3 separate regions of the Homo sapiens genome follow, and regions 2 and 3 are each linked to region 1. Evidence: fine-mapped QTL for protein levels in blood plasma. A gene starts in region 1. Each other region holds a variant in brackets. All regions are shown on one strand. Distances are from middle to middle. Region 1 holds the start of CPA4 (carboxypeptidase A4). Region 2 holds the start of LOC124901837 (small nucleolar RNA U13). Region 3 overlaps CPA4 (carboxypeptidase A4).

What was found. PIP is the chance, under the fine-mapping model, that this variant and not a neighbour inherited with it causes the effect. The UK Biobank Pharma Proteomics Project read protein levels with antibody pairs (Olink). The fine-mapping took linkage between variants from a reference panel, not from the people measured, so its PIPs are less certain.
Region 2: its variant is fine-mapped to the plasma level of the CPA4 protein (UK Biobank, PIP above 0.99).
Region 3: its variant is fine-mapped to the plasma level of the CPA4 protein (UK Biobank, PIP above 0.99). The variant lies in the coding sequence of CPA4. If it changes the protein, the assay may bind it differently, which can mimic a change of level.

Annotation. Positions count from the first base shown.
Region 1 is chr7:130,289,799-130,297,798 of GRCh38, reverse strand. CPA4 (carboxypeptidase A4) reads right to left here and starts at 4,638. Exons shown (of 11, transcript NM_016352.4): 1 at 4,551-4,638. The coding sequence starts at 4,618. RefSeq lists enhancers at 1-333, 4,144-4,233.
Region 2 is chr7:130,336,119-130,344,468 of GRCh38, reverse strand. All of the region lies in intron 1 of LOC105375503 (a long non-coding RNA gene), which reads left to right. LOC124901837 (small nucleolar RNA U13) reads right to left here and starts at 54; the gene lies at 1-54. The variant AAGAG/G (reference allele first, on the strand shown) is at 1,389.
Region 3 is chr7:130,305,021-130,313,020 of GRCh38, reverse strand. It overlaps CPA4 (carboxypeptidase A4), which reads right to left. Exons shown (of 11, transcript NM_016352.4): 6 at 7,101-7,205; 7 at 6,124-6,234; 8 at 4,624-4,714; 9 at 2,035-2,234; 10 at 899-983. Among named protein-coding and RNA genes, the nearest start is that of CPA4, 16 kb to the right of the region's middle. The variant C/T (reference allele first, on the strand shown) is at 4,640.

The DNA of each region.
Region 1 (8,000 bases):
ATCCTCACTCGATGTTGTCACTGTGTCATCTCTTTGACACAAGTGAATGCAAAGAGAGCCGCTGTGGGCTCAAGGACCTGTTGAGAGTGAATGGCTGTCACAGGGAGCTGAGTGTGCAGCCTCATGGGGCAGCTCCTCATCAGAAAACCGGTTTCATCCAGATGGCTCTTCAGGGTTTTGCTGGGTTCTGGAAGGTTCTAGGGGCTCTCCAGTGGGTCTAGGCCAGACTTAAGGAGTCAAGGTCCACTGCAGAGCCACTCCTGCTGCAGGTGGCTGGTCTGGAGGAGATGACAGTGCTGAAGGTTCCCTTTCTCCCAACCCACCTGGTCCCCAAAGGGTCCTGGAGGTCAGCGGGTAACTGCACCCTGTGGGCACTGCCGAGGGCCCTGAAGAGATACCACTGGGTGGGCAGGTCTCAGTCTGAACCCAACAGGCTTGCCAAGAGTTGGACCTACCGCCCTGGGAAGATGAGGCATCAAACCTGATCGTTCCCTGACCTCGGCAAGCACCATTGAAAAAAAGGGACCGATGTAAGACAGAATGGAGCCAGGCACCGTGGCTCACACTTGTGATCCCAGTGCTTCAGGAAACCAAGGTGAGAGGATTGCTTGAGGCCAGGAGGTCAAGATCATCCTGGACAAAATAGTGAGACTTTGCCTCTACAAAAAAATGAAAAACAATTAGCTGGGCGTGGTGGTTCACACCTGTAGGCCAGCTACTCAGGAGGCTGAGGCAGGAGGATCGCTGGAGCCCAGGAGTTCAACGCTGCAGTGAGCTATGATCACACCTCTGCACTCTAACCTGGGCAATAGAGCAAGACTCCCATCTCAAAAAACTAAAATTAAAAATAAATAAATTTAAAAAACAGAAAGGAAATCTTTACTCCTGGATGGGGACAAGGGCCCGTCCGCTGAACTCACGCTCTATCATAACCTACCTCCAACACTCCAAAGAGGGGGTATCTTTAAAGTGGGGATTCTATACTTGGGAGGCTAAGGCAGGAGGATTGCTTGAGCCCAGGAGTTCAAAAGCTGCAGTGAGCTATGATTGCATCACCGCACTCCAGTCTGGTTGACAGAACAAGACCCTGTCTCAAAAAAAAAAAAAAAAAAAAAAAAAGTGAGGGGAGCTGCTAGAAAGATCTTGTGTGGTGACATATTTATTAGCACAGTTAAGCGTGTGTAAAATGCAGCACTGGCTACAGCAATCACAAAGAGGAAAAGGAGAAAGAAGGGACAGGAGGAGAAAAAAGGAGGACATAAGAATAAGAAGCTCTTTGAGTATGAAAATCATGTTACGCATTCACCCAACACATGCGTTTTAGTTTTTCCAAAGTGGTGACTTCACAACAGAACTTGTAGACATTCCTGGGCGCAGTCCCAGGACAATGGGACACCGTGTCTCTGACTGGCCCTGAGGATGATTAAATCCACAAACCCATTTCATCCTGCTCTAATCAGCCAAGCTACAGAGGTCAACAAAATATCTGTAGCATGCAAAGCGGCAGGGCAGAAGAGCGGGTGCCGAGTGAAGCCCGTTCCATCTGTCTCTTCTTCACCTCTCCCTTCTGCCCCATCTCGGACCCAGCCCAAACTCACCGCGTACTTTTGTATGCTTTTGTACACGCTGTTCCCACTGCCTGCAATCCATCCTTTTTCTCATCTGTCAGGCCCATCTAGTCCCATCTAATCTTTAGGACCAACTCACATCACCCATGAAGCTTTTCCTGACCAGAGGAAGCAAAGTCCTAACAGTCTTCAGATAGTGCTGAACATTGGCGGTTGTGGTAGTGGGTAGCATTATCCTTTTTTTTCAGATGGAGTTTTTGCTCTTGTTGCCTTGCCCAGGCTGGAGTGCAATAGCACGATCTCAGCTCACTGCAATCTCCGCCTCCGGGGTTCAAGTGATTCTCCTGCCTCAGCCTCCCAAGTAGCTGGGATTGCAGGCATGCACCTCCACGCCCAGCTAATTTTGTATTTTTAGTAGAGGCGGGGTTTCTCTATGTTGGTCAGGCTGGTCTCGAACTCCCGACCTCAGGTGATCCACCTGCCTCAGCCTCCCAAAGTGCTGGGATTACAGGTGTGAGCCACTGCACCCAGCGGTAGCATTATCCTTATGAACAGAAGCACAGCAACACCTGAAAGGAGGGAGGACATTGCGGGGTGCAATGCGAAGGGCAGCCTTTTTCTTGCCCTCACTGTCCTTGTCTGTATTTGAAAAATGCCCTCGTCAGTTCATGAGGCTCAAGATGGTGGAGCACATCCTATCTCCACTATCCAGAAATTCACTCAAAGACCTTGAGCTCTTTCTGAAGATGGAAATTGGCCTGGGAGGGGGACGTGTTGGGATTCACAGGTGGCCATGTCTGCCCCTCCTGCTCCACACAGGTGTTCTCACAGCTCCTCTTAACTTGATCCTCTCCAATAGACAGGGCGTCCAGCTGCTGCCATTGCAATGGCTGGCACTCCCACTCCCTCACCCTCACAGGAGTCTGTGCTTTGGACAGTCAATACCCACTTTGGTGACTGAGCATCTATCCCTCCCCTTTCACCATGCTGACAGCCAAGTGGCCCGTCCTTTGTGCCTTTCTCATCTGCCTCCCTAGCCAGGCTTAGCAGCCACCACAAAGAATATTAAGAGATGGTTTCATAGAACTCTTAGATGCCTGCCAGCTACTGTTGATGCTGTAACCAGCTCTGCAACTGGTTCCTGTTCTCTGCCTGCCTGGTGCCTCTAGGCATCCTGGCCATTGTCCCATCCTGAAGATCTCTGAAGACCAGGGCAGAAGACTCCAGTAGAGCAAGAGAGACTGGGGAGATAGGTGAGGCAGATGGAAGGGAGGGGAATGGGTGGTGGGTGGTGGGGAGAAACCATCATCCTCATCTTCAGCAGCCAATCCAGAGCCTGGCTTCCCAACCACTTGAATGCTCAGAGGCCAGCTTCCCCTTGCTCTAAATGTTCCCCTTGCTCTAAAAGCTGGGTGTCTGGGACACCTCTAGAGAGCCCAGGAAGAATTCCACTACCTTTGCTAGGTTTCCTACTATGGCGTGAGAATGGATTTGGGGATGAGAATGACACTATCAGTTCAAACCATCTGCAGTCAGCTCAGGCACACAGCTTTTTCTGTGCAAAATTCCTGCAGAGAGCATTCTAGGGCCTGGCCCAGCTGTCGCAGCCCAGGTGCCCACCACATTGCAAGAGAGGTCTGTATCTTGCGAAATAGAGATTTTTCAGCCACATGAATAGCTGCAGTGGGAGCCTGACAGTTCCATGCGTCAGCCCACACGGCAGCAAGTCTAGTCACTACACACCTACTGCTGAGCCGCCTGTGGGAAAATCTTCCCTGGCCACCTGCCACTCCTAACCCCTCTGAGCTATTTGGCAACAGAGACACAGGTGTGAACAGAAGTCATCATCATAAAACTTAGTCAATCTCATATAAGTAATTACCTCAAAAAACAACCCCAAAGTCTCATTAGCCAGATAGTAAAATAGAAAGAAAACTAAGAGACAGATCCAAGAGATATAGGATTTTATTTGGAGATGAACTTGTGTTATAGCAAAAGGGTACGAGTTTTACGTTCAGAGTTCCAGCTCCCCTGCTTCCCAGCTAAGTGGCCTTGAGCGCGTTCCTTAACATTCTAAGGCTGATTTTTTTCATGTTTAAGTGGAAGAAAATAACACCCCTGCCTGGCAAAGTTGTTGTGTGATCAAAAAGATAATGTACATGAAAGCTCTTTGCAAATGGTAAAGTATTATGCAGTAATGAGTTATTATAATTCAGTCTTCTAACAGGGCACCATGGTATCCCTTTTATCTCTCCTACCACCCAAATGTCCTCTCCCCTGCAAACCTCAAAGTATTCTGCATGGAGCGTGTTGAGCACGTGTGTGTGTGCACACACACACGCGCACACACACACGGTGTTCAGGCATGTGTCTCTGCATGTCATTTTCATAGCTGTGTCTAGGCAAGACCTGTGAAATCTCCACGTCCCAGAAGCCAGTAAGAAAGCACCAGCTCAGAAGAGGGTGTAGCTCAGGGGTAGAGCATTAAACTGCAGATCAAGAGAAGGCACCAGCTCTGCAAAGCCTTCGCCATTAACAAAGAAGTGAAACCAACAAGCTTGAGACCCAGGGTTTCCCTTTATGCATGGCGGAAATTGGAAACAAACCATTTCTGGTAACCAGTAACTCTTAGTAATTAATAACGTAGCTCTTAGTAACCAGTAACTCTTAGTAATTAATAAGGTAGGAGTAAGAAAGTAGATGCCTGGAACTGACCTTATAAGTAAGAACTAGGCAGAAAAAGAACTGGCAGGAGATGAGGGAGCTGGGGAGAGACTGCAATGATCATCTAGTCCTGATTTCACAGATGAAATGGGGTCTCAGAGAAGAGAGTGGACTTGTCCAGGATGACACAGGGGCAAAGCTGGAACAAGAGCCCAGGTCTTCTTCCTCCATGTGAGCTATTATCAGCCATTCATTTTCAGTTCCATTTGGCTCCCATATTTCTGAAATAACCAAATAATAAGTCCAAAAGGAACTTACCCAAAAAATTTTTCTTGGCCACAGATGCTGGACCCAATAAGGGCCCCAATGAACAGTATCCACCTCATGTCCCCGGGGAGTCAGTCATACAGTGGCTGAGTCAAGCTGTATTTATAAAGAGTCTGAGAGTGACTCAAGTCCTCAAAAATGCTAATGTGATTCCCAAGCACCCTTGCAACTCTGACTGTGACAGGCAGGCCCTACCAATGCCTCTCCCATTCCTTTCAAGTGATAAAGGTTGAGCATCTCAATTTACAAGGTCAGGAACTTGCTCCAGGAGCTGAAAAAGTCTGTGCCAAGGGTACCATATTGCTCATCACTTGGCATTTAAATAGTGTTTTTTCAGTGAATAAGCTAATTCCACAGTGTTGGATGGAATTTATCCTGATAGGAGAGGTCAGATTATAAACCTGGCATAGAATTACCTCTAGAATAATAATAAAAAAGTTAAGACTATCAAAGCAAGACTGAGCTGGCTCCAAGACCACATGCTTGACAAGCCCTGCCAGAGAATTTCACCAGGGCAGGTCAGGATGAGGAAAGAGGTTTGGGGCCTCTTTTATGTATCTGAAGCCTAATTCTTCTGACTCCACTAAGGAAATAGAAATGTATCAGGCAAATGATATAGAAAGGATGTTTTAGTCTGAATAAATTATCAGTGTTCCTTGGGGTCTGATCTATGGGGAAGGCTTAATGGTTTTATCAATAATAAGATTTTCAGCCGGGCGAGGTGGCTCATGCCTGTAATCCTAGCACTTTGGGAGGCCGAGGTGGGCGGATCACGAGGTCAGGAGATTGAGACCATCCTGGCTATCACAGTGAAACCTCGTCTCTACTAAAAATACAAAAAATTAGCCGGGCGTGGTGGCGGACGCCTGTAGTCCCAGCTACTCAGGAGAATGGCGTGAACCTGGGAGGCGGAGCTTGCAGTGAGCCGAGATCGCACCACTGCACTCCAGCCTGGGCGACAGAGTGAGACTCCATCTCAAATAAATAAATAAATAAATAATAAGATTTTCTTATACTTCCTAGACTGTGGGTCTGGTGTCCTTTCCGCCAAGTCACAGCTGAATAAATGGAAGACACTCATATCTCCATAACGCCTTCAGGGGCTCTGGGACCTTTGAGTCTGTCCTGGGAGCCCCAGTTCCCACAGCCTTTCCCATCCCACCCTCCCTACGGTCTACATGCTTTCCACACCCACTCAAAGGGAGTGGACACAACCAAGGGTCATAGTTGAGAGAGTTAAAGAAAAACTATCCTGACCTGTGTTAAAATGTAAGACCTAATTCAAGATTATTATGATTAGGACCATGGCTATTTCAGTAGGAAAGACTTACTGTGCTTAACACTGAATACGGCAAAGAAAACAGAGAGGATCAGTGGGATTACTAAGAGAAGACATCAAGGTAGGGGGATTCTTGCTAAAAGCAGGCCAAGGACTTATACATCAAAGTCCCCATCAAAGGTGGGGATGAGGAACTTGATCAGATATCAAGGTGGGAGGGATGACTTCGCAGGATCTTTGCTCAGGCTGGCTTAGCCAGGGCTCAAGAACCAGCCTAATCAAAAGGAGGGTGCAGAATCTCAAGTGTGGTCCCAGAGAGAGCCTTTGTTAGGAGCTGTGGAGCTAGGGGCCATCATCTCCTCTTGCTCCCTCAGGGTCCTTTTGTCCTCTCAACACTTCAACTGAATTCCTACACCCACCCTGTCCACCACAAAGCGTGGGCTCAGCGTCACTGAGATCGATGTCAGCTTTGAAGTCAGCAACAAGAACAACTGAGACCCAAATCTGTAAGAGATGTGAAGTGGGAGAATCAAGGACCAAGCATTCTAGGCAAGCTGAAATTTAGTTCCTACCTTTTCTCCCAGGGAAAATCATCCACATGAAGAAAACCTAAATCCCTAATGGGAGTCAATATCTAAAGAGAAACTGTGTGCAACCTGAGACCGAGGCTTGATAGGGCAACCAGGAAAAAGGAATGTCATTGGCTTGGGTCCCCACCATTTGTGTGTTTGTTTTTTTTGAGACAGAGTTTCACTCTGTCGACCAGGCTGGAGTACAGTGGTGCGACCATAGCTCACTGAAGTCTCAAACTCTTGGGCTCGAGTGATCCTCCCAACTTAGCCTCCCAAGCAGCTGAGACTAAAGATGTTTGCCACCATGACGGGTGCTTTGTTTTGTTTTTGTACAGACGGGGTCTCACTGTGTTGCTCAGGCTGATCTCAAACTCCTGATCCTCCCACCTCAGCCTTCCAAAGTGCTGAGATCACGGGCCTGAGTCACCATGCCCTGCCCCACAAGTCTTCATAAAGCAGCACACCAGGAAAGGAAAAACCAAAGGCAACAATGGAACCAGGTATAGCACCTGGCACGAGGCCTGGCACAGTGCAGTTGCTTCATGAGTATTTATTGAATACATGAACTTGAAAGTCCATTGCTAGCCCTAAAATGCTACACTCTTACGATGAAGCAGTGACACATGCTACACCATGGATGAACCTTGAAAACATTATATTAACCAAAAAAAAAAAAAAAAATGCTAGCCACAAAAGGGCAAATACTGTTTAATTCCGCTTATACGAAATACCTAGAATAGGCTAATTCGTAGAGACAGAAAGTAGCTAGTAGTTGCCAGGGGCTGAAGGGCAAGAGGAATGGGGAGTTATGGTTTAATGGGGAAGAGTTTCAGTCTGGGATGATAGGAAAGTTCTGGAGATGGATGATGGTGATGGTGGCATAACGTTGTGAATGTACTTAATGCCAATGAATTGTACACTTAAAAATGGTCAAAATTGTAAGTTTTGTGTATAATTTAACACAATAAAAAACTGTCAAATGGGGCCAGGCACGGTGGCTCACGCCTGTAATCCCAGCACTTTGGGAGGCCGAGGCGAGTGGATCACTTCAGGTCAGGAGTTCAAGACCAGCCTGGCCAAAATGGTGAAACCCTGTCTCTACTAAAACTACAAAAATTAGCCAGGCATGGTGGCAGGTGCCTGTAATCCCAGCTACTTGAGAGGCTGAGGCAGGAGAATTGCTTGAACCTGGGAGGCAGAAGTTGCAGTGAGCCGAGATCGCGCCATTGCACTCCAGCCTGGGTGACAGAGTGAGACTCTGTCTCAAAAGGAAAACAAAAACAAAAACTGTCAAATGATGTTGGGAGCACTCTGCTCCGGATGGATTTTTTTTTTTAATATTATTCTTTTTAGAGATGGGGTCTCCCCATGTTGCCCAGGCTGATCTCAAACTCCTGGGCTCAAGCAGTCGTCCCACCTCAGCCTCCCAAAGTGCTGGGATTTCAGGTGAGCCACCACGCCTGGCCCCAGGATGGATTTTCTAAAAGATGAAGGGGTACAATGCCATGACTTGTTGTGTTTGAGGGCAGCAGAAACTGGAGAAACGGTGCTGCCAGATCAGGCTTAGAAAAATAAACAACACAACCCAAC
Region 2 (8,350 bases), 46 kb before region 1:
TCTCACACACGCATGCGTGAGCACCCAATTATCATACTTATGAACTGCAATTATCAGCTTATGGCTGGATTTGAAGCGGAGACACATAGCTATGCTTGACCTAATACCTCATTTTGGCTTTTCACTTATAATTAATTACTCACCTAATCATTTACTCAGTAAATGTCCTCTGAATACCTGCTATGTTCCAGGCACTTGCTAAAGTCTGGAAACAAAATAGAAAGCAACACATATCTGGCCCTTACATTTCTAAAGGCGTAAGTAGAAAATTAATTTAAATAGCATGAAGATAATTGGTAAACCCAAGACATAATGGTAGCCCATCTCACTCCAGATAAGTGTAAAACTATAGATGGTGTTTGTGTTACAAGGGAAAGGCACATTGTACCATGAGGACGGGGAACATGGGCTCCACATAGACTGAAGGAGAGTTTCCCTAAATTAGAAATTTTTTTGGAGGACTTTTATTTCCTGCAGGTGGGGTGGGTTAGATACCTAAGCAATCTTGCCCAAATGAAAGAACTCAAATGCAGAAGAAAATATTTTTAGTAACAACTTTCTAAAGCCATTGCTGGGTTGGCACAAAAATAAGAATCTATAGATCCCAAAAAGAAGGAAAAGCCAGACAGACACCCAAGTGGTAAGCAAGTTTTGCCTCAGAGAACTTCTCAGAATGCTGGTGTTCTTGATTTTCCTACTGGATGCATGTACCATGTATCTAGAATCATCTTCCCTCTGCTTCAAATCTATCTTTTCAAACCTTCCTTTAGTTAAGGTTTCTGTTTTTACTTATTTGAAAATTTTTGGCCAGGTATGGCAGCTCACATCTGTAATCCCAGTGCTTTGGGAGGCCAAGGCAGGAGGAGCCCAGGAGTTCGCTTGAGCCCAGGAGTCCGAGACCAGCCTGGGCAAGTCAGGGAGACCCTATCTCTGCAAAAATAAAATAAAATTAGCTGGGCATGGTGAGGCACGCATCTGTAGTCCTAGCTACTCGGGAAGCAAGCAAGCAGATCAACTGAGCCCAGGACTTTGAGGCTGCAGAGAACCATACTCCAGCCTGGGTGACAGAACAAAAACCTATCTCAAAAAAAAAAAAAAGAAAAAAAGAAAAAGAAAAGAAATAAGGAAGGGAGGGAGGGAGGAAGAGAGGGAGGGAGGGAGAGAGGGAGGGAGCGAGGAAGGAAGGAAGGAAGGAAGGACAGACAGAAAAAAAAAGAAAGGAGAGAGGGAAAGAGAAAGAAAGGAAAAAAAAGAATAAAGAAAGAAGAAAGAAAAAAGAGAAAGAAAGAAAGAAAGAAAGAGAAGAAAGAAGGAAAGAAAAAGAAAGAAAAGAAGAAAGAAGAAGGAAGGAAGGAAGAAAGAAAGAAAGAAGAAGAAAGAAAGAAAGA[AAGAG/G]AAAAAGAAAGAAAGAAAGAAAGAATTATTTTGCTCTCATTCTTGAAAGGGTTTTTTGGGATAGAAATTCCAAGTTGATTACTGTTTTCCTCTCAACACATTGAAAATATTATCCCACAGTCTTCTGGCTTCCATTTTTGCTGCTAAAAGGTAATGTTTGTTGACTTACTGTTCTTCAGAAGGTGACCTCTCTTTGTTCCTGGTTTCTTTGAAGAGCTTCTCTTTGCTTTTGATGTTCCACAGTTTTATCATCGTAAGTCCAGGTATGGATTTTTTTTGTTTTGTCTTGCTTGAGAATCATTTGAATTCCTGTATCTGAGTGTCACTCGCTTTCTATTATTTTCCAAATTTCTCAGCCATTATATTTTTAAACATTGCCCCTTTTCCTCTCTATTACCTTCATCTGGAACTTTTGACTGGACCTCCTCATTCTAGCCCCCAAGACTCATAAGCATTCTGCTATATTTCCATTGTGTGGTCTCTCTGGGCTACATTCTGGATAATTTATTAGTAAAAAATATTTTTGTCTTTATTCCAGTTACCTGATTCTTCATTGGCTGAGTTTAATCTGCAATTTAATTGATCTGTGAAGTTTTACCTTTCAATTGCTACGGTTCATTGATTCTGCAACCTATTTTTTTCACATTTTTAACACTGCTAAAATCAGGATACATCTTACAATTGGTGGCATCTTGCAATGCTAAGGTGGCACATAAAATTATGGTGCATCTTATAAAATTGATCCTGTTTTATAGTCAATGCAATATGATATTCATTTTTCATTTTTGGAAGTTCTATTTGATTCTTTTTTTCTGATTCAAGCCCAAATGACTTGAATTTCTTATCTATTTTAGAATTTCTTATTTCTTTAAACGTATAAGACAGATATTTTATATTCTGTGTTAGATAATTACAATTCCTAGATGTTTTAAGTCTGTTTCTGCTGCCTATTCTTTCCGCTGGTTCTCACTCATGGTGCATTTTCTCTCATGCCACATACCTGTGAACCAATCATTTTCCTTGAACATTTATCTGTGAGAATCCCTTGAGGCCTGGGTTGAAGGTGGGTTCTTCCAGAAAAGATTTGCGTTTACTTCTGTAAGTTGCTGGGGACACTACCAACCTGCGACCACTCTAAATTAAATAATTTAAGATTTTTTTGGGGGACTGCATAGTTAGCATAAACTTAAACCACAAATTCATGTCGGGGGCTTACTTGTGGTTATGAAATCTCAGGAAATATTTTCCCCGGCATCATCTAACACCAAAGTTTTAAGTCCTGGACAAGAATAGCATGTTATCTGCAAGTGGGTCATCAGAGTTAAAGTGTCTTTAAGGTCCTGGAATTATTGGGAGAAAGGAGAGATATTGATAATTTTTTAGATTTTGGTAAATATGCGTGTTCAAATAGCTAGAGCAACAACTAGAAGAATAGGCCCAGTGCACATAACTTTCAAACTCCACTAAAAATACAAAAATTAGCTGGGCATGGTGGTGGGAGTCATCCCAGCTACTCGGGAGGCTGAGGTGGGAGAATTGCTTGAACCCAGGAGGCGGGGGTTGCAGTGAGCCAAGATCATGCCACGGCACTCCAATCTGGGCGACAGAGCAAGACTGTCTCAAAAAAAAAAAGAAAAAAATACTAGCTATATGGTTTCACAAGAGGCACTCTTAAAACATAAGAAGAAAGAGAGACTCAAAGTCAAGGATGGAAAAAAGATATTCCAAGTAAATACTAATAAAAGAAAGCATATAGCCACGTGCAGTGTCTCGTGCCTGTAATCCCAACAATTTGGGAGGCCAAGGAGGGACGATCACTTGAGGACAGCAGTTCAAGACCAGCCCAGGCAACATAGGGAGACCCTGTCCCTACAAAAAAATAGAAATAAGTTAGCCAGGCATGGTGGCATGCACCTGTGGTCTCAGCTACTTGGGACACCCCTTCTTAAAAAAAAAATCAGGAATAATTCTAACAAGCAATGTGCAATCCTCCCTGTTCTGAAGTAAGCAGGTATATGCAAACCTGCCCCCAAAGTCTTAGGAAGCTGAGAGGTCCAAGAAAGAGGCTGACAAATCTGTTTTTTAGAAAGAAACACTTAATAGGGACTTACAAGCAGAAGCCATGTCTGTGTCTCAGGTGTTGGTGAGACAAGCTGGTGGATTCCTGCACCATTACCGCCGAGACCCATGGCCCATACACCATAGGGACAGGATAACTCCAAAGGGATGTGTAGGACCTTTGAAGGGTGATAGCATCAAGCCTGTACCAACCCCAGGGCAGGATTCATGGCAAGCACATACTCCACTCAAGGAACAACGAACTGGAAATCCCAAGGCCTTCCCCGATCGGGGGGCAACCAGAAGTCAACATGGCAGATTAGCATCTAAGATGGAGTTGCTTTTGCCTCCATACTTCCTGGAGACAATTATAAAACTATTGGAAAATGCTAACATTCCAAACGAATCTAACAGTATACTCTATTCTTAAATAAGAAAACTCAATGTCATCACGCCACTGTGCTCCAACCTGGGTGACAGAGTGAGACCCCATCTCTACAAAAAGTTAAAATTAGCCAGGTGTGACGGTGTGCTCCTGTGGTCCCAGCTACTTCGGAGGCTGAGGTGGGAGGATGACCTGCACCTGGGAGGTAGAGGCTGCAGTGAGCTGTCATCGCACTACTGTACTCCAGCCTGGGTGACAGAGTGAGACCCTGTCTCAAAAAAAAAAAAAAAAAAAAAAAGAGAGAAACTCTTGCACATGTCACCAGAACATATGCACAAGATTGGCTGAATGAATGGAGACGTCATACAACAGAATACAAAGAGCAGAGAAAAGGAGTCAGCTACAGCGCCATGCATCCACATGGTTGAACCTCAAAAAATGTAATGTTGAGCGAAAGAAGCCAAGTCAGAACGCACTGTGTTTCCATTTATATACATCCACAAAACAGTATATTGTTTAGGAATATGTCCATATGCGGTAATTATAAGGAAAAGAAAGAAAATTATTAGCATGATTACTGGTTTTGTCTAGAAAAGGAAAGGGAGTACATTTGAGGGGCATGTGCAGGCTACTCGAATAATGTTACATTCTTGTTCTTAAGCTGAATGATAGGGTAAGAGTGTTAATTTAATTTTTTTTTTTTTTTTGGAGACAGAATCTCACTCCATCACCCAGGCTGGAGTGCAGTGGTGTGATCTTGGCTCACTGCAACCTCTGCCTCCCAAGTTCAAGCGATTCTCCTGCCTCAGCCTCCTAGTAGCTGGGATTACAGGCACCTGCCACCACACCTGGCTAATTTTGTATTTTTAGTAGAGATGGGGTTTCACCATGTTGGCTAGGCTGGTCTTGAACTCCTGACCTCAAGTGATCTGCCTGCCTCCGCCTCCCAAAGTGCTAGGATTACAGGTGTGATCCACCGCGCCCGGCTGTTAATTTTATTTTTAACAGCCACTGAAGTTTTATACAGGATCTTGTACGTATGATATACTTCACAATAAAACATATTTTAAAGGAAATATGGGGCAGTTAATTTACTTTTTATAGTGAGAATCAATCCAAAATGCCCAAAACTGAAAAATCAAGAAGTAGCAATGTAAGCACTTTACCTAGTCTTGTGAATGTTGAGCATCAAGGCTAGAAGAACTCAATGTGGTTATTGCCAGAGAGCAAGACCTGGCACGAAAGCGAGGAGCAGGACTCTGTTGCTTTTTATAACAAGTCTTGTAGAACTCTGACTCTTCATATGATGTGCTGTGTAACCCTTTAAATTAAAGAGAAGTTGTAAAAGTGGCATTTAATACCTAGAGTAGTCCAGCTTATAGAGACAGCAAGCAGAATGGTGGTTGCCAATGGGCAAATGGGAAGTTATTTAATGAGGATATAGTTTCAGTTTAGGAAGAGGAAAAAGTCCTGGAGATGGGTGGTGGTAATGGTTGCACAGCAGTGTAGATATACTTAATGCCACTGAACGCTACACTTAAAAACAAAATGGTACATTTTATGTTATGTATATTTTATCACATTACACAAAATTAAAGCTAAAAAAACCCAGCCAAACAGTAACATTTGAGCTGAGTTAGGTAAGATGTGAAGGAGTTAACTCGACTAAGCGTGATGGGGAGATTGCAGGAAATCTCATTCTAGCCCTGAATCCCTTCCTTGTTGAAGGTATTAATTCCCATGTCTGGCTGGGGACCACCCTGGGGGTCTCCAGAGATCGAATGAGGTGCTCCAACATCTGCAAACAAAACTTCCAAACTAAATTATGTTTTAGTCTCCAAAAGTCCCCTTTGAGTGTTTTAGGAAAATAAATACATCGAGTGTAATCTTTAAAAAAAGAACAACAGGAGCATCATCGTTCCCTTTCTAAAAGGATTCTTTGATTATTGAGAGGATTTGCCACTGTTTCTTAAAATGAAATCTCCCCTAGTGCACTCAAAATGTGATTTAATTAACAAAAAAACAGGCTTATCCCACCTTTCAGGAATATGCCAAGCAGGCGCTTTCAGGAAATGGAATATTAAAAATCCAAGAAAACAATGGAAGGCCTAAAAGGTAGGTTAATGCCGCTCTGGATTAGAGGTTTGAAATTTACTTTCTCATGCAAAATCCCAGTCTGGGGCCACCCACCACAGGGAACCTGAGCCTACTGACCACATCTCCCCAGTTTAGCTAATCATGCCTTGTGCCTCCATCACACACCATAGATTCTAATTCTTTACAGGCATCTGCAAACTCAAAACAAAGTCTTCGTGGGCTGGGGCTGTGTCATATTCATTTGCACCATCCCAGAAACCCTTTGTATAGCCAGGCCACTGCCCAGGACCTATTTGTTGACTGATTTGTTGATTTACTCATTCCAATGACTCCCCAAATCTTAGGGGAACAATCCTTCACATCCAGGACCTTCACCCTTGCCTGCTCCGCTCAGCTGTGCCTCCGTCAGCCCAGAGCTCCTAAACCTTTGCTCTGAGCTGCTCCCCATGTTTTGTTACTGGACCTCACTCTCACACCCCACAACCAGGGACCTACCTCCCCTGGCGTCATCCTCAAATGCAGGCCTCTAACACCAAGGTCTTGCCTCCCCCTCCCCCAGGACGTACGCCCCTGCCCAGATGTAGGCCCAGCAGCTGAAGATAGACTCTTGGGCAACCCTCCGCCACTTGGCTGTCTCCATCCGGGCACCCAGCTGGCCTCCTCTCAACTGTACTACACCACCCCTTCCCCACTAGCTGGGTGTTTGGATGGAGGCCAGACACCCCCCGACCAGCCACAGGGCAGCAAGAGCTATGGAACGGCTGGCCAGGACATGTCACTTGCCAAACCTCAGAGATACTGGGAGGAAGTGGGCTGGGGCTGCGGGCTCCCTGGGTGGGTGTCTAATGCCTGGTCATCTGGGACCTAGCTAATGACCACCATGAGGTGCCCAAGAGCACAGGCTGAGGGCCTGCTCCCAGTGAGACAGTAGGTTGGTAACCTACAGGCCAAGGAAGGGATGCAGCTGCAGCCAAGGCCAGCCCCTTGGGCCTGGAGAGCCACATTTACAGCCCTGTGCAGAGCTTCCAAAGGCCTCACCATGTAGAGGAAAGGTAAAGGTGACCCACATGCTTTCCCTGTCCAGGGGCCAACAAATTTTTTTCTGGAAAGGGCCAAAAAATAAATATTTTAGGCTTTGGGGTCCAGAAGGTAAGATAGAGCAACTGTTCTCACTGAAGAGTCTGTTTTTTTCTTTAATTAAAAAAAAAAAAAATTCATAGAGACAGGGTTTTGCTACGTTGCCCAAGCTGGTCTTGAACTCCTGGCTCAAGCTATCTCCCACCTCAGCCTTCCAAAGTGTTGGGGTTACAGGCACGAGCCACTGTGCCCAGCCTAAAGAGTCTTTTTACATTTAAAAATGTAAAAACCATTCTTAGCTTGGAGGCTATGGAGGCTAGATTTGATCTGCGGGCCATAGTTTGTCTATCCGGTCTACTTAAAGAGGCAGGCATTCATTTATGAGATTATTCAGATCTATTAGACAGCTCAAGGTAAGTCGGAGTCGAGAATTAGAAGCATTTTCAATCAAATCCAGTGATTTCCAAAGTGAGGCATTCATTCCTACCAGGGGGTAAAGGAAGAAACTATTAAGACTTATAAGCTATATTTTTATTCTGTCCTTTTTATTTTAATTTTTATGTTTTATAAAATATATAATATGAGTACAGTGGCATTTGTACAGAATTTATAAATATATAATTACATATGTTGGGTGTGACAAGCCAGATTTTTAAAAAATTATAGGAGTGCAGGATAAAAAAATCTGAAGAATTCTGCCTAGAGTTCTTACATCAGTTTATTTTGTAAACTTGCACACCACCGTGCCTTTGTTTCTATAAGTACCTCTTCTCTCACATAGTGCTGGATGGCACAATCTGATTTTTAAAATTAAAATTTATTTAAATTCACGTTGATAGATGTTGCAGAATTTCACTGTCCTTGAAAGCTATGTATTATGGAGCGAAAGGCTATTTACTGAGCACCACTATGAGCAAGGTTCTGCCTCTGTAACCTCATGTCTGGTTGGGAAAAAGTGGGCAAAAGTTTTACCACTTTTTGATCAAAGTTCACTTTTTTTTTTTTTTTTTGAGATAGGGTTGCGCTCTTGTTGCCCAGGCTGGAGTGCAATGGCACGATCTCAGCTCACCGCAACCTCCGCCTCTTGGGTTCAAGCGATTCTCCTGCCTCAGCGTCCAGAGTAGCTGGGATTACAGGCATGCGCCACCATGCCTGGCTAATTTTGTATTTTTTAGTAGAGACGGAGTTTCTCCATGTTGGTCAGGCTGGTCTACGAACTCCTGACCTTAGGTGATCCTGCCCGCCTCAGCCTCCCAGTGTTGGGATTACAGGCGTGAGCCACCACGCCTGGCCCAAAGTTCCCTTTGAAATAACACTAGACTATTTCACGTGTAGTGCAGG
Region 3 (8,000 bases), 15 kb before region 1:
CCATTTTAAGTTCCCCTTGATTAAAAACTAGCCCCAAACATCAGCCTAGTGGGTAATGTCAGCGTGACCAGGAACATTCCAACTCTAAGATAAACCTCCCCTCCAACCAGAAACATGCCAACCCCAAGACAATCTCCGCTCTGATCAGAGATATTCCAACCCAGGAAATAAAACTCTCCTTCACACAGAAACATTCTGAGCCTGCGATAAGCTCCCCCTCCCTAAACCCTTAAATACCCTTAGTCTCTAAGACAGAACACTCCTGACTGAAATCAGCCAGAAGCCCCTCTCAGGTTTATTCCCAGAATAAACCTGTCTTTGACTGCTAAGCTGCTTTTTGTGTTTCTTTCCTCTTTCTTTAACTCTTACAAGAAGAGGGCTTGTGCTGGAAAACTCCTCCTTATAATAACCATCAGATCTCATGAGATTTACTCACTATCATGAGAACAGCACAGGAAAGACCTGCCCCCATGATTCAATTACCTCCCACCAGGTCCCTCCCACAACATGTGGGAATTCAAGATGAGAGCTGGGTGGGGACACAGCCAAACCATATCAGATGGGGTCTTGCTATGTTGTCCAGGCTCAATGTTTGTCCATCTCCTTTAGGAAGATGAGGGAGTCTCCCCCAACTCCACTACCACCATCAGTTTACCAACTGAAAGGTGGGTTTCCCTTGAAAATGAAGGGATGGGCATGAGGAATTTTTGATATGATGTTGATGAAGGGGACTGCATGCAACAGCTGTCACCACACAGGCATGATGTAGTTCAGTCTATTACCAACAACAAAAACAATCAGATGACAAGTAAGTCTAACTTACAGCCCTCCTCCCACTCCATTTCAAGTTTCCTCTCAAAGTGCTTTCTAAATAACTCATAAATAAGCGAGTACTTACAGACAGTGGTGCAGGTGGGACCCACTTGGTACTCAGTGCCCGACACAGAAGCCAGAGCTTTGGCCGCAAGCCTCGCCACCTTGTCCTGGGAAGGGGGAATCCGTGGAGTGAGAAAAAATCGATCCTGAAGCTTGACCTTCCTCAGCTGCTCTGCTCTGGGATGGTTTGGAAGATTCTCAGCCCCCCCCGATTTCCTTTCTGGTCCCTTGTTTCCCCTTCGCCCAGTGCCAAGGCCCAACTGTAAACTGAGGGAGGTGGCATGGTTCCTTCAACTCCTTCTCCCACCACACCCCCAGTTCTTGACTCCCAGTTTGGGGGAGGAGATGAGGAGGGAAGTGGAAGCCTGTGCATTATGTACTCAGATTGGAAGAGATGGGGGTTCTGGGGCTGCTCACTGACCCACTAGGAATCTAGTAAAGGCACCACCGTCTTCACCTATCCTGAGAAGGGAGACGTCATGCACACATGAGGGAGGGCCAAATATGCTCAAGAGAAAGCTCTCAAAGAGTTGGGTGTTGCAGAGTGGAGGAGGAGAAGGACCGCCATAGGTGGATGATCCCTGTGTAGAGTGCCTGCCTGAGAGGCCGGGTGGGGGTGGGGGAGCAGAATCAAGCCCGCACTTTGCCGTGAGCCTGGGAGGGGCTGCATCTGCCTGAGGTTTAAGGGCTGGCTGTGAGCCTGGGCAGCCACCTGCAGTCACCCTCCAGATGCCAGGCCTGCTCCTGATGGCCCACGTTCTGGATGAGACACAGAGCACCCCAGGCTGTGGCCTTCGCCCTCCTTAAACTCTTCTTTCACTAGAGTGAGGATCTCTCCCCCTTGCCCACCCAGGTGCCACCCACAGTCCTTGGCAAGCAGTGGGTCCACAATACATGGCAGTCAGAAAAACAAGGGAGACGGAAAGGCGGGGCAGGCACGGTTCTGGGAACTCATAGCAGACACAGAAATAAAGGGCACTGTTTTCCTGTCCCCAGCAGATGACAGCATATCCCAAAGGGCAGGGAGAGAAGATTGGACCTTCAATGAAACATGCCTAGGCTCCTGGACCCTCCCTATAAAGCTGCAGAGCTACCACCTTAGCAGCGCCAGGAGGGTCAGGCGGGCCCCAGGCTGGGTGGGAGGCAGCTGTGACTCACGAGTTCCTCGGCATCTGGGGCCTTTTTGACTGAGTACCCATATGGATACATCAGCAGCTGCGAGTAGCTGTGCAGGTCGATGAAGCCCTTGAAATTCCCATGTTTTTGGATGAAATCTACCACTGATTTCACCTCCACTTCCGAATTGGCGTGGGGTCCATGGTACACTTCGGAGCAAGGGTTGTCGCTGGCTCCCTTTCCTGTTGGGGATAGCCCAAGAACAAACATTAACTCATAGTCCAAGAACACAGAAATGCAAGACGCTCCACCTAGAGAGGGGCCGAAGGTATTGGGAATGGGCAGGCCATGGCGAGACGGCCCAGAGCACCTAGTCCATGGTGGGTGTGGACTGCAGAGAAGGCATGGAAGAGGGAGGGTTGGGTGTTGGGTCTGCTACAGCTGAGGAGAAAAACTGTTGGAGTTGACCTTGCCTTGTACCAATAGCAGTTGTCATAAATAATTAATATCACCCTTGAGAATGAGTTGTAATTAATAAGTAGACTAGATAATTAATATGAATACCAATAAATAATGAAAATGACTCCATTTATTCTGGTGTCAACTTATTCTCTGGTTGAGATCTTAAAGGCCAAGTGTGCCAGAAATAATCAATTGTTGTGGCTAAAATCTCTTGATTATTTGACAGGTATTTAGAAACACTGCCTTCTGTATTACTTCATAATATAGTTCCCTCGGGTTTCTAGGGTGTGTGTGTGCACACGTGCATACGTGTGTGTGTGCGTGTGTGTGTGTATGAATGTGACTGAAACCACCCCAGTGGTGGGAATATCTGACTTAACTTTGAAGCTCTGAGTTCCCACATTTGTATCAGTTCCTTTCCCACAGTCATTATTTTCCCCCAATGGTTTGTGTGGTATTTCTATACAAGTAAAAGAAGCACATTAAAAACAAACCATCGGGGCCGGGCACAGTGCCTCATGTCTATAATCCCAGCACTTTGAGAGGCTGAGGTGGAAGGATCACTTAAGCCCAGAAGTTCAAGACCAGTCTGGGCAACATGGCAAAACCCCATCTTCACAAAAAAATACAAAACTTAGCTCGGCATTGTGGCATGCGCCTATAGTCCCAGCTACCAGGGAGGCTGAGGTGGGAGGATTGCTTAAATCCAGGATGTCGAGGCTGCAGTGAGCCATGATCACGCCACTGCACTCCAGCCTGGATGACAGAGCACGACCGTGTCTCAACAAAACAAAACAAACAAACAACCCATCAGTACAGCCATGGGACAGTGAAAGAGAACTGTCTGGATTTGAAATTGGAAGCTGAGTTTAGATCAGAACTCTGTTCACCCATGTCATCTTGAGATTGTCTCTGAGCTTCCACCGTCTCATTTCAGATCATAAAATTCACTCGCTAGGTGAGAAGAATAAATATGATAAATACCGGAAGGTACTTAGTACACAGTCGGCACTTCTGTGGAGGGTGGTTTTTAAATCGCTGGCACTCAGAGCCCAGGTCTCCTAATTCTCTTTCCCTTTCCATGACAGCCAGCTGCTAAGGTTCATATCTACACATCTAAGGGTACTGGAGTGGAATTTTCACAGCACAGTCTTGCCCTTTGGGGTGACAGTGCTAATTCCTCTCTTCTGAGTTGCTGCCAGGAGTCCTTCCGCCTGCTCACAACTTGCCCAGGCAGGGCTGGTAGGGTCAGGGGTGAAGGTTCCCCGTTTTGTATGTCTTAGAAGAGAGTGTTTTTAAAATATTAGCATAGATGGCAATCTCAATGTAAGATGCTCTGTCCCACCATTCTCTCGGGAAGACAGACATCACTATCATTCCCTTTCAAAATCACAAAAATATATTTTAAAAAACAACAAACAGTCCGGATGCGATGGCTCATGCCTGTAATCCCAGCACTTTGGGAGGCTGAGGCGGGCAGATGACCTGAGTTCAGGAGTTCAAGACCAGCCTGGCCAACATGGCAAAACCCTGTCTCTACTAAAAATACAAAAATTAGCTGGGCATGGTGGCATGCACCTGTCATCCCAGGAGGCTGAGGCAGGAGAATCACTTGAACCCGGGAGGCGGAGGTTGCAGTGAGAGTGAGCCAAGATCCTGCCACTGCACTCCAGCCTGGGCGATGGAGCAAGACTCTGTCTCAAAAAAAAAAAAAAAGGCTGGGCTAGGTGGCTTACGGCTATACTCCCAGCACTTTGGAAGGCTGAAGCAGGTGGATCATGAGGTCAGGAGATCAAAACCATCCTGGCCAACATGGTGAAACCCCATCTCTACTGAAAAAAAATAGCCGGGCGTGGTGGCGTGCACCTGCAGTCCCAGCTACTCAGGAGGCTAAGGCAGGAGAATCACTTGAACCCAGGAGGCAGAGGTCGCGGTGAGCCAAGATCACGCCACTGCACTCCAGCCTGGGTGACAGAGTGAGATTCCATCTCAAAACAGCAACAACAAACAAAACACTAAGTCAGAGCCTAAGGAGTGCTCCTCAGTCTCTCAGTGACGCAGCAACGGAACCAAAGTGGAAACGCGCTCCGTCCCGGCCAGCTCAGAGCACTGGTAGACCAGGCGAGCCCAGGGACAGCAGGATTTGAGAACTGTCTCCCCACCGCCTACCTGCAAAACTAGCGTT[C/T]CAGTTTCTATTTGGGTCAGCACCAATGCAGGAGCTTCCAGGATTTCGGGACCGCGTCTTCCTCCATAATCGGTTCTGAAAAAGCCACCAAGGAGGGGACAAACAACCAGAGGCAGATCAGATCACCGAAGAGGGCTAGGGTGGAGATGACACGCAGGCAGGGCAGGCTGCTTGCAGTTCTGCCAGGAGGGCCCTGGGGCTCCTAGTCCTCATTGAGCAGTTGTCTCTCCTCCTGCAGAGAGAGGAGTATTTCCCCTTCCGGCTCTAAGAGAAGGACTTCTTCCAAATGTACTGATGAGACCTTTATATGCTAGAACCAGTCAGATACTGCCTGAATCCACTGAATAATTTTTGGCTTTGGCAGAAGTGGGCAAATGGACACTATATGCCTCGGTGATAATAGATGTAGCTGGAAGCGCACAGCCCCTGTTTCTTGCTTGCCTAAAAAATTCCCCTGAATCCAATCAAGCTCTAGACCTGGCAATCTATGAACAGGAAATACAGGGGATAAAGGAACAAACTAAATGGCATAACAAAGAAGCCATCAGCCAAATTCAGAATGTGAGACACTGTACAAGACAAATTACTTGGCTTCTCCCCTAAATGAGTGAGACTTTTAAAAGGTGTGTGTGGGAGCTGCTGTAGAATAAAAGAGGCTGCAGAGACACAGCACCAGGTGCATGCGCAGACCTTGCTGGGTCCTCACTTGAACAAATTGACTCTTAAAAACACTTTTTTTTTTTTTTTTTTCTGAGATGGAGTCTTGCCCTGTCGCCCAGGCTGGAGCAGTGGCGCCATCTCGGCTCACTGCAAGCTCCGCCTCCCGGGTTCACGTCATTCTCCTGCCTCAGCTTCCCAAGTAGCTGGGACTACAGGCACCCACCACCACACCCAGCCAATTTGTTTGTATTTTTAATAGAGATGTGGTTTCACCATGTTAGCCAGGATGGTCTCGATCTCCTGACCTCATGATCCGCCCACCTCGGCCTCCCAAAGTGCTGGGATTACAGGTGTGAGCCACCGCGCCTGGCCTCGGCCTCCATTTTTAAGGTAATCGGGGGTGTTAGATGATATTAAAGAACTTCCATTATTCCTTTAAAAGTGATAGTAGTGCCATAGGGTTTTTTAATTTTTTTTTTTCTATCGTCAGTTAGAGATGCGTACTAAAGTAGTTTAGGGTGAAATAACATAATGTGTTGAATATGTTTTAAATACGTCACGAAAAAATGTGTGGGAGGGCAAGAGATGAAAAGATTTGTAAAATGTTGGTCATTGTTAAGACTCATGATAGGGAGTTCATTAGACTATTTTCTCTAAGAAGAAATATCCCCTGGTGATTCTCAGCTCTGAGGATGACTAGAAGATGAAATCCCAAGGAAGCTCATAAGGTGCACATTTGTGGAAATTCTCTCCAAGATCAGACAATTAGTGGCAAAGCAAGGAATTCAACAGTCTGCAAGCCCAGCCCATTTGGGAATACTCACTTGAGTTTGAGTATACACATATCCATCAGGATTGGCCACAGGCAACAAGAAAATATCCATTTTCTCCAAGATGGAGGTGATAGCTGGATCCCTCTGGTAATCAGATACAATCTAAGCAGAGACAATATGCTTGTCAGCTATCCCATGGCAGGATGGGCCATTAGGGCTGAACCATGTATCTTCTCAAGATGCCCAGCAACCAGCTAGAATGAATGCTCCTAGAACAGCATCCACCCTCAAAAGCCTCCCTGCCACCCTCAGAGGCTCTGCTCTCTGCAAAGCCCTCTGAGCCCTTCAAAGCCTGGAGAGACACGGCTGCTTGGGGACATGGCTGCTAATGGCATCAACTGCAGTGAGTCCTGGGGTACGTGCTTTATTCCTTCCTTCCAGGAGGAGGGAGCCACACATTGTAATAGTTTTTAGGAATTTGAACCTCCAATGAAGAGGGAAGGAAGATGTGTCCTCCACATGCACCCCTCCTCCCCTCCCAGCAGACTTTCTTTCTTTCTTTTTTTAAGACAGAGTCTTGCTCTGTTGCCCAGGCTGGAGTGCAGTGGCGTGATCTTGGCTCAACGCAACCTCCGCCTCCTGGGTTCAAGGGATTCTCCTGCCTCAGCCTCCTGCTGCCCTCCCAGCAGCCTTTCTAGGAGATGGAGATGGCGTGAGGTCCCCGAGGGTCTATGGGGCCTTGTCTGGGTGTTGCTCTGCTCCCTTTCTGCGGAGTGGACTGCTCTCAGAGGCTCAGGCCCACCTCTGCTGCATATCAGCTTGTGCACCACCAGGAACGCAATCAATTTGGCCGCAGTGAGCTGACCAAGGGGTTTTGACCATTTGCTTCTCCAATCTGAAAAGGCCCCCCAGCCGACTGGGTCTTAGTAGAGAACCCTCCCACCTCGTGCCCCAGGCCCAGCCACATGGCATGCTGCAGGGGCACCCCGGCACCATCAGCATTCCTGGCTAATACCACGCAGCATGACCTTCCTTGCCGTCCAGATTGCAGTGGCCTGGGAGATCCACTCTCGGGAATGGATGCCTGCATTCAGCCAAACGGCCGGCCGCCTCACGCCTTTCCCAGTGCTGAACTGCAGAAGGGAGAAAAGGCTCGAAAATGACCGCCTGCCCGCATCTCTGCTCACTTCTCCTCTCTCCAGCTCTCTCCCATTCATTTAATTCATTTAAGATAATTCAGAGATCAAATGTTCCTAAGGGCACCATCTATTTATCGAGCTTATCCGTGACTTGGAAGCTTAATTGGTTGGCTGCGGGGCCAAGCTGCAGCTCCAGGCAGCCTGAACCTCTCCAGCATTAGGAGCAAATGGGAGGGGAAACAACCGTTACTGTGTTTTATGATGCCGGTGCCATTAGAGATAATGTTATGTCTCTTGAAAGACCTCAAATGGTATCCCAACAGCGAGAGACATAAGGGTACACAAACCAGGCTGTTTCGGTCGACATGATAAATGAATTTGGTTTTAAACTAAGAAGAAGGGGGGCTCGCTATAGCTCTTTGTAAATGGCAGCCATGAATCCTGGCTCCTGCCTTTGCCATAGTGTTGGGCCCCCTTGGGTCAGAGCTTGGTGCTAATGAAGCCAGGGTCTCCAACAGATTGGCAAAAATATTTAAATGTAATTATCCAGCTCCGTGGCAGGTCTCCTCTCCCACTGGTAATTTGCTTAGTGCTATAAGCCTGAGTTCTTTGGGACTTATACGAAGCTGAGGGTTTGGCAAATTCTTAGCACCATTGGTGTTCCATGGGTTATACGCCCAAATTCCTTCTTATTCATTCAACTGGATTTTTATGTAATTTATGTCATTATCATAGCTCTCTACCTCTTTGCCAATACAGTCTTGAATCTGTTAGAAATATTTGGAAATT